2 linked regions of the Homo sapiens genome follow. The protein of the gene in region 2 purifies or fractionates together with the protein of the main gene of each other region. This does not show direct contact. Each region holds a gene or a part of one and is shown on either strand. Other genes may lie near its edges. The genes, in order: CLSTN1 and GMFG.

What was found.
Region 1: the proteins of GMFG (region 2) and CLSTN1 purify together in Homo sapiens (affinity purification with mass spectrometry; one large-scale study listed by BioGRID and IntAct). This does not show direct contact.

Annotation. Positions count from the first base shown.
Region 1 is NC_000001.11:9,733,220-9,737,027, forward strand, and holds part of CLSTN1 (calsyntenin-1 isoform 1 precursor), read right to left. Parts: intron 2,824-3,808; coding exon 2,666-2,823; intron 2,397-2,665; coding exon 2,248-2,396; intron 1,956-2,247; coding exon 1,729-1,955; intron 924-1,728; coding exon 753-923; intron 328-752; coding exon 182-327; intron 1-181. UniProt on the Homo sapiens protein: Postsynaptic adhesion molecule that binds to presynaptic neurexins to mediate both excitatory and inhibitory synapse formation.
Region 2 is NC_000019.10:39,333,183-39,337,463, forward strand, and holds the start of GMFG (glia maturation factor gamma), read right to left. Parts: upstream 2,862-4,281; 5' UTR 2,795-2,861; coding exon 2,792-2,794; intron 2,373-2,791; exon of another isoform or gene 2,350-2,372; coding exon 2,253-2,349; intron 2,129-2,252; coding exon 2,079-2,128; intron 1-2,078.

The sequences.
Region 1 (3,808 bases), on a different chromosome or scaffold from region 2:
CCAACAAGCCCAGGTGTAACCTGCAGCAGGCCCCAGGCTGGAAAGGCGACCCCCTAGAATGAGCCTGTATAGCTGCCATCATGAATGCTCTGAGGTTGGCGTTTGTGAATATTAGGGCTGCAAATCAGCGCCCTCACTCACTGCTGCTATTGGCCCTGCTCAGTGGGAGCCTTGTACTCACCTCCACCTTAAATTCGTTGCTGATGTAGCGGCCATTCAGCTCTGAGCAGATGAGCTTAAACTTCCGGTCAAGCAAGGACCTGGCATGCCAGTTCCGATAGCGCAGCAGGTGCAAAACCTCCTCGTAGCTGGCCATGGTGTCCACGCCTGCAGGGGTTGAAAGGGGGAAGATTGCCGGGTGGCTTAGGGCAGGAGCATGGGCAGGGCTGCAGCCGTCAGCACAGGCAGGCTCAATTAGACACCCAGGTTAGCTAGGCCAAGGGGTCACACAAGTTGGCTTTCTAGCCATGGGAATAAATGCAATGTGCACAGGGGCATTCTTCCCTCTGTGGGGGACGTGTCATCCCACGCCTCAACCCTCCCCCTTTAGAGAGTAGTGGCTACACATCCGGTACCTGTCCAGGAGACAGGAGTATGCGTGCAGCCAACAATGATCCCAGCGAACGTGCTCCTTCCCCATCTCCCTCTAAGATAACTCAACATTCTCAGATGGCAGGCAGCAGCCAGCCAAGAGCTCTCAAAGTCCCCTCTTGCAGCCTGGCCCACCTGCGTGGCTGCAGCGCTCCCCTTACCTGTGAAGGTCATGCCCAGTTCAGAGCTGCTCACTTCAATGCCCTTCTGCTGCAGGCGGGCCATGTCCACCTCCAGGCTCTCCTGCTCGTGGTTCAGCTCCTCTCCCTCCACCGTGACCTCACAGGTATCCAGGTCGTGCACGATCTCCTCGGACACCAGTGATTCTTGAACTGCAAAAGAGGCCCAACCAGAAATATTAAGTAGGGGCAGTGGGGCCCAGCGTGGCGGGGCACACTGGATGCCCTGCCGGCTCACCCCAAACCTACATGGCTCTCGTAAGGACCAACGACAGAAGCAAGCGAGAGTTGCTTTCAAGAAACGGCTGGGCGCAGTGGCTCACGCCTGTAATCCCAGCACTTTGGGAGGCCAAGACGGGTGGATCACCTGAGGTCAGGAGTTTGAGACCAGCCTGGCCAACAGGGTGAAAGCCCGTCTCTACTAAAAATACAAAAATTAACCGGGCGTTGTGGCAGGTCCCTGTAATCCCAGCTATTCGGGAGGCTGAGGCAGGAGAATCGCTTGAACTCAGGAGGTGGATGCTGCAGTTAGCCAAGATGACACCATTGCACTCCAGCCTGGGCGACAGAGTGAGACTCCATCTCAAAAAAAAAAAAAAAGGGGGGGAGTTTCATGTGTCCTGAGCAAGAATTGTGGGGACATTGTGCCTCCATGGGCTGGCCAGCCTGGCAGGTGCAAGCAGTGTCTCCCGTAAGTGCCCTCAACCCCTCAACCTCAAGCCACATCTCAAAGCCTGGCAGCAACCAGGAAAAGATGTAAGACCCCTCCAGATGGGATTCCAGAGATCACCATGAGCTCCAGCTCACGGGTCAGATTCCAGAAGCACACCCGAGAGAACACCAACGAAAGATTAAAACCTCCCCAAATCCCACAGAGACAAAGAGCCCCGCCAAGTACATGGGGACAATGGGGTTTCCGGCCGAGGCGAGGGAGCCCGCGCCCCACAGAGCACATTACCTGTGGGGTCCTCAGCCCCGTCCCCTTCAGGCTCCACTTCTCTCGTGATGGTGCTGATGATGCGAAGCTCAGGGAAAAGGAACACCCCTTCTGAGCTTTCAAATTCAGAAGCTGCTCGGGCAAAATGGTGGACGCCACTCAGGCTGATCTTGGGCTCCTCGGGCTGTAAAACCATCACGTAGCCATCTACCGGGGGGACCGAAATGCAGGTGGCCTCGTTAAAACACCTGCCAGCAAGAAATGGGGAAGGGTCAGGGCTTTGGGAGCCGATCTTGGAGCCCACCTGTGCAAAGGCACATGGAGGTGGGATACAGAGGCCCCCACTAACACCTGCCGGGGCCACTCCAGGAACACACTTGCAAACAAGATGCGTAAATATCACTCAGCTCTCTGCCCCACACTTTCTGGTTACACACGATGGCTCACCTTTCCTTACAGAAGGGGTTAGGCTGTCTTAAAAACCTAAATATACAAGTGTCATTGGGCAAAACAGGCCGGCTGTTAAAAATCAGGACGTACTTGATTGTGCTGGTGATTTTGAGTCTGCGAATTCCGGGCGTGGGGAACTGCCGGGAGTTCAGGTACGAGATGTGCTGCATGGCCTTATCCAATTCCCCGAGGTCTTCTCCCTCCAAGGTCAATACCAACTGGCTGGGGTGTGCTTGGATCTGAAATCACACCAGCCACAGAGAGGAGAAGAATAAGCCAGTAACCGCAGGAGCTGAAACCACAGATGCCTCCACAAAGGGGACTGGCCTGGGTTCGATTTGAATTGCTGACTTGAAAAAGAAAAGCTCGTTTAAGTCCAGTGAACACAACTCTTTTACCCAACAGTAAACGTATCAATCACAGATTACTCACTCCCTCATCCCACCAGCCTCCGGGGCTGTAGTCTAAGGGGCCCATGAGTGGTGTGCAGTCGAGCGCTCGGTGTTACCTGCACGCCTCTGCCACTGTCTTCGAGGACCTGCAGGTCCAGCCCCTCCTTGCAGGTATACAGACAGTCGATCACCTTCTTATCCGCGAGTTTCCCGGAACGGAGAGTTAAGCCAGCCAGATTGCCTCGGAAAAACTGGGTCATGTGCAGGTCGCCACCTTTGGGTCAGGGGAGAAAAGGCGAAGTCAGGCGTGCAACCCAGCATCGCCCAACTCACTTCTCACTCAACACGGTGTTACCGGTGCTGGCAGCTCAGTGGATGGACATGCGGGTTAGTTCATACCAAGTCCTGTTAGCCTTGCAATCTACATGGAAGCGCAATGAAGAAATTAAACCGTTTATGATCATGCACATGGCCTGGAGAAAGGGAGAGTTGGGGGTGTCTCACCTGAAGCCAAGAGGTCCCCTGAGGGTCCCCACACCTCTGGCCACTACCTGGTAAGGTGGCCTACCCTGTTCTCATCACCAGGGTGCATGGTGACACTTCCTACGCCACCAGCCTCTCCAGCCACTGCCTTCTCAGCTGGCTGGGTTCCACATGGCTGTTTTCTCTACCTGGCACGCCCTGGGGAATGAACCCACACAAGCGAGGCAGGGAGGATAAAAGGGAGGCTTAAAATACTCCCTGCATGGAACGGCCTATTTCAAGGATGCTATGGTGTTAAGTCCCATCCTTCCTGCCTCCTCCTGAGGATTGCTGAGAAGTGCAGATGTTACAACGAAAACCAAAACCCAGAAAATGGCCCTTGACAGATGACAACAAAGAGCCAGAAACAGGTTACACTAAACCTTGTTCTTAAACTGAAAAGGAAAAGGGACAAATTTTCAGCAATGTGTCTCATTCTGGTACAGAAATCAGGCACTGTAAATCATGACTAGGAATTGAGGTTTCTAAGAAACGGCTATTTGCCAGGCATGGTGGCTCACGCCTGTAATCCCAGCGCTTCAGGAGGCCGAGGCGGGTGGATCACCTGAGGTCAGAGTTTGAGACCAGCCTGGCGAACATGGCGAAACCCCGTCTCTACTAAAAATATAAATATTAGCTGGGCATGGTGGTGCATGCCTGTAGTCCCAGCTACTTGGGAGGCTGAAGCAGGAGAATTGCTTGCACCCAGGAGGTGGAGGTTGCAGTGAGCCAAGACC
Region 2 (4,281 bases):
ACCTGTAATCCCAGCACTTTGGGAGGCCGAGGCAGGCGGATCACAAGGTCAGGAAATCATTCAGACCATCCTGGCTAACAGGGTGAAACCCGTCTCTACTAAAAATACAGAAAATTAGCCAGGCATGGTGGCATGCACCTGTAGTCCCAGCTACTCGAGAGGCTGAGGCAGGAGAATTGCTTGAATCCGGGATGCAGAGGTTGCAGTGAGCCGAGATCGCGCCACTGCACTCCAGCCTGGGAGACAGAGTGAGACTCCATTTCCAACAAAAAAATTAGCCAGGCGTGTTCAGGAGGCTGAGGCAGGAGAATTGCTTGAACCCGGGAGGCGGAGGTTGCAGTGAATCAAGATTGTGCCATAGCACTCCAGCCTGAGCAAAAAAGATCGAAACTCCGTCTCAAAAAAAAAAAAAAAAAAAAGAATGACCACCTTTAGGTGAGCACTTACCATGTGCCAAGGCATCGTTCTATGAAACACACATGGATTAATTCATGCAACTATCCCGTAAGTCTGTGGGGTAGGTCCCATCATTATGCCCACTATACAGCTGAGAAAACTGAGGCCCAGAGGTGTTAAGGCATTTGCCCAAGATTGCACAGATAGAAAGCAGCAGAGTTGAGATTTGAATCTGGGTTCGAATCATAACTGCTTCACTATACTGCCTTTCAGAGGGCCTGAGAGAGCCCCAGCCCCCAGTCTCCATGGATTCCCTTATAAATCCTTATCGCAACACTAGAGAAATAAGCCTTATTATCATTCTTGTTATTGATAAAGACAGTGAGGCCACCAGGGGGGTGAGGTCTACCCCCTTTTTTTTTTTTGTAGAGATGGAGTCTTTTTTTTTTTTTTTTTTTTTTTGAGACAGAGTCTGTCGCCCAGGCTGGAGTGCAGTGGCACGATCTTGGCTCACTGCAAGCTCCGCCTCCGGGGTTCACGCCATTCTCCTGCCTCAGCCTCCCGAGTAGCTGGGACTACAGGCACCCGCCACCACACCCAGCTAATTTTTTGAATTTTTAGTAGAGACGGGGTTTCACCATGTTAGCCAGGATGGTCTCGATCTCCTGACCTTGTGATCCGCCCGCCTCAGCCTCCCAAAGTGCTGAGATTACAGGCGTGAGCCACGGCACCCAGCCGAGATGGGGTCTTGCTTTGTTGCCCAGGTTGGTCTCAAAACTCCCAGCCTCAAGCAACCCTCCCACCTCAGCCTCCTGTGTAGCTGAGATCACAGGTGCACACCACTGTGCTTGGCTAATTTTTGTATTTTTAGTAGAGTTAGGGTGTTACCATGTTGCCCAGGCTGGTCTTAAACTCCTGGGCTCAAGTGATCCTCCTGCCTCAGCCTCCCAAAGCGCTGGGATTACAGGCATGAGCCACCATGCCTGGCTAGCTTTTTAACTTATATGGAAACTCTTTCATTTAAATGCCAATAAAGCATTATTATCATCATTATTAAGATCATCATCACCTTATTGAGCACATACTAAGTGCCAGGCCTTGTTCTAAACCCATTACAAGAATTAAATCACTGGATGTAAAAACAAGCCTATGAGATAAGTACTATTCTCCCCATTTCACAGATGAGGAAATAGAGACACAAACAGGCAAAGTCTCTTGCTGGGGGTCATGAGTGAGCTAGAACTTGATCTCCAGGGTTTTTTGTTTTTTTGTTTTTTGTTTTTGTTTTTGAGACAGAGTCTTGCTCTGTGGTTCAGACTGAAGTGTAGTGGCACAATCTCGGCTCACTACAGCCTCCATCTCCCGGGTTCCAGCGATTCTCCTGCCTCGGCCTCCCAAGTAGCTGTGATTACAGGTGCCCACCACCATGCCTAGCTAACTTTTTATATTTTTAGTACAGATGGGGTTTCACCATGTTTGCCAGGCTGGTCTTGAACTCCCAACCTCAGGTGATCCACCTGCCTCGGCCTCCCAAAGTGCTGGGATTACAGGCATGAGCCACTGTGCTCGGCCAATCTCCAGGTCTTTCTACCCCCATGCCAGGCTCTTCATATCAGTTCCAACCACTTGGTTCTCCCAGTCTCACCCTGTACCTCCCAGTCCCAATCACCCCAGCCCATCACCTGAAATTCTTCCTCCAGCACCACCATCTGCCGGTCTTTGTCCACCTTCACTGGGGAGGGGTGGCACACAGGGATTAGACACTCCCCCTGATCCATGGGGGACACAAGCCCAGCCCTCCCTATCTGCCCTCACCACCGCCCTCCCATCCTTCTGTGGGGGAAGATGTCACTCACTTATGATGGCTGCATTGTCTGTCTCTTTTCGGAAGCGGAATTTCCTCAGCTTTTCTGTTAGCTCTGGGTCTACCTCGCACACCACCAGGGAGTCAGACTGCCGGAGGGACCCAGGAAGAGCTGAAATGGCCTGGCCTCAGCCCTCACCCCTTCCCCAAACCTGTTTCTCCATCCACTAATGAAGAGGAGCATCGCGCCGGCCCATCTGATGCCTTTGTGAACATTGAGAAAAGGCACCCTTCCCACAGAGTAGATACCCCTCACCAGGGCACTCAGCTTGGGGGGCGGAGCAGAGGCTGGGTTCCCGCCTTCTCCACGGGGACTCTTGGGGGACACTCAAGGAGGTGCAGAGATCCACTTCCTGAGCCTAAACCCAGAGCCACTGTCTCTCTGTTCTTCCAGCCGGGCTGTTCACCACAGTTGGGCCCCCTTCCCGGCCCGTGACCTCCATCCCATAGCCTGACCTTCGCCCAGGTGTCCTCCAAGCCCCAGCCCCAACCCCAGCCCCAGCTCTTCCCATAGAACCCCTGGCCCCTGACCATGATTGTTCTGTCCACAGGCCTCTTCTTTTCTTAGTTCCGCTGTCTTCTAGGCGTGGGGACCGGGGCTGTAGGGGGGCGGGCTGTGCAGTAGGAGGAAGGTTTCATCCAACACCACATCCTGTTTATGCCCTTTCTGGGACAACTGTCACAGAGGGCTCCTCCCCCTCCTTCCTTCCCCTCATCTGCCAGGACCTGTCAGGAAATCGCTCAGACCAGGGTTCCAAAGCTTCCTTGCTGTGTGACCCTAGCTAAGTAACTTCACCCCTCTGATTTGAGATTGTGGTGAGGATATAAATAGCTTCACATCGGCCGGGCATGGTGGCTCACACCTGTAATGCCAGCACTTTGGGAGGCCGAGGCGGGCGGATCACCTGAGGTCAGGAGTTGGAGACCAGCCTGACCAACATGGCAAAACCCCATCTCTACTAAAAATACAAAATATTAGCCTGGCATGGTGGTGCACGCCTGTGATCCCAGCTACTCGGGAGTCTGAGGCACAAGAATTGCTTGAATCCGAGCAGCAGAGGTTGCAGTGAGCCAAGATCACATCATTGCACTCTATCCCAGGCAATAAAAATACAAATAAATAAAAATAAATAAATAAATAGCTTCACATAGCTGCCAGCATGGCAGACACAATAGGTACTAAAAACGAACTATTTTGCTCCTCCCCTCCTCCAGGTGGCCTTCCTAGATTTACCCCCATCTGGGATATTTGAATTGCAGGGCTGGAAAAGGGGAGTTTAGTCTTTTGCTGGTCAGACTGACGCCCATTATGTCAATGGCAAAATGGGGACCAGAGGGGCAACCCCACAGTGCCTGGGTAATGGTGACTTTTTTCCTGCACTTTTCCAACCTCACTAGCCTTGCAATGACCTATGAGGCCCTACAACAAGGGAGTTCAATCCCGTCAGACCGGTACCCAATTTTTTTTTTTTGAGACAGGGTCTCACTCTGTCGCCCAGGCTGGAGTGCAGTGGTGCGATCTCAGCTCACTGCAACCTCCGCCTCCCAGGTTCAAGCCATTCTCCGGCCTCAGCCTCCCAAGTAGCTGGGACTACAGGCACGTGCCACTACGCCCGGCTAATTTTTGTATTTTTAGTAGAGATGGGGTTTCACCATGTTGGCCATGTTGGTCTCGAACTCCTGACCTCAAATGATCCACCTGCCTCAGCCTCCGAAAGTGCTGGGATTCCAGGTGTGAGCCACTGTGAGCCACCATGCCCGGCTATTTTTTTTATTGAGTATTTTTGCACTGCCCCCTTTTCCCATCCCGAAATAAAATTCCTAGATAATATAACCTACTTACACACATAAATTCAAAAAAAAATCAATATAATGTCCTGACTGTCATATAAAGAAGAAATAAAAGGAATGTAGTTCACACAAAAACCATATGTATTTCAGTGAGAAGATAAAAGCAAACAAAAGACAATTTCCACAGGGTCCTAGGCCAACTGTGACTGGCCCACTTCCCTCCATGGTGG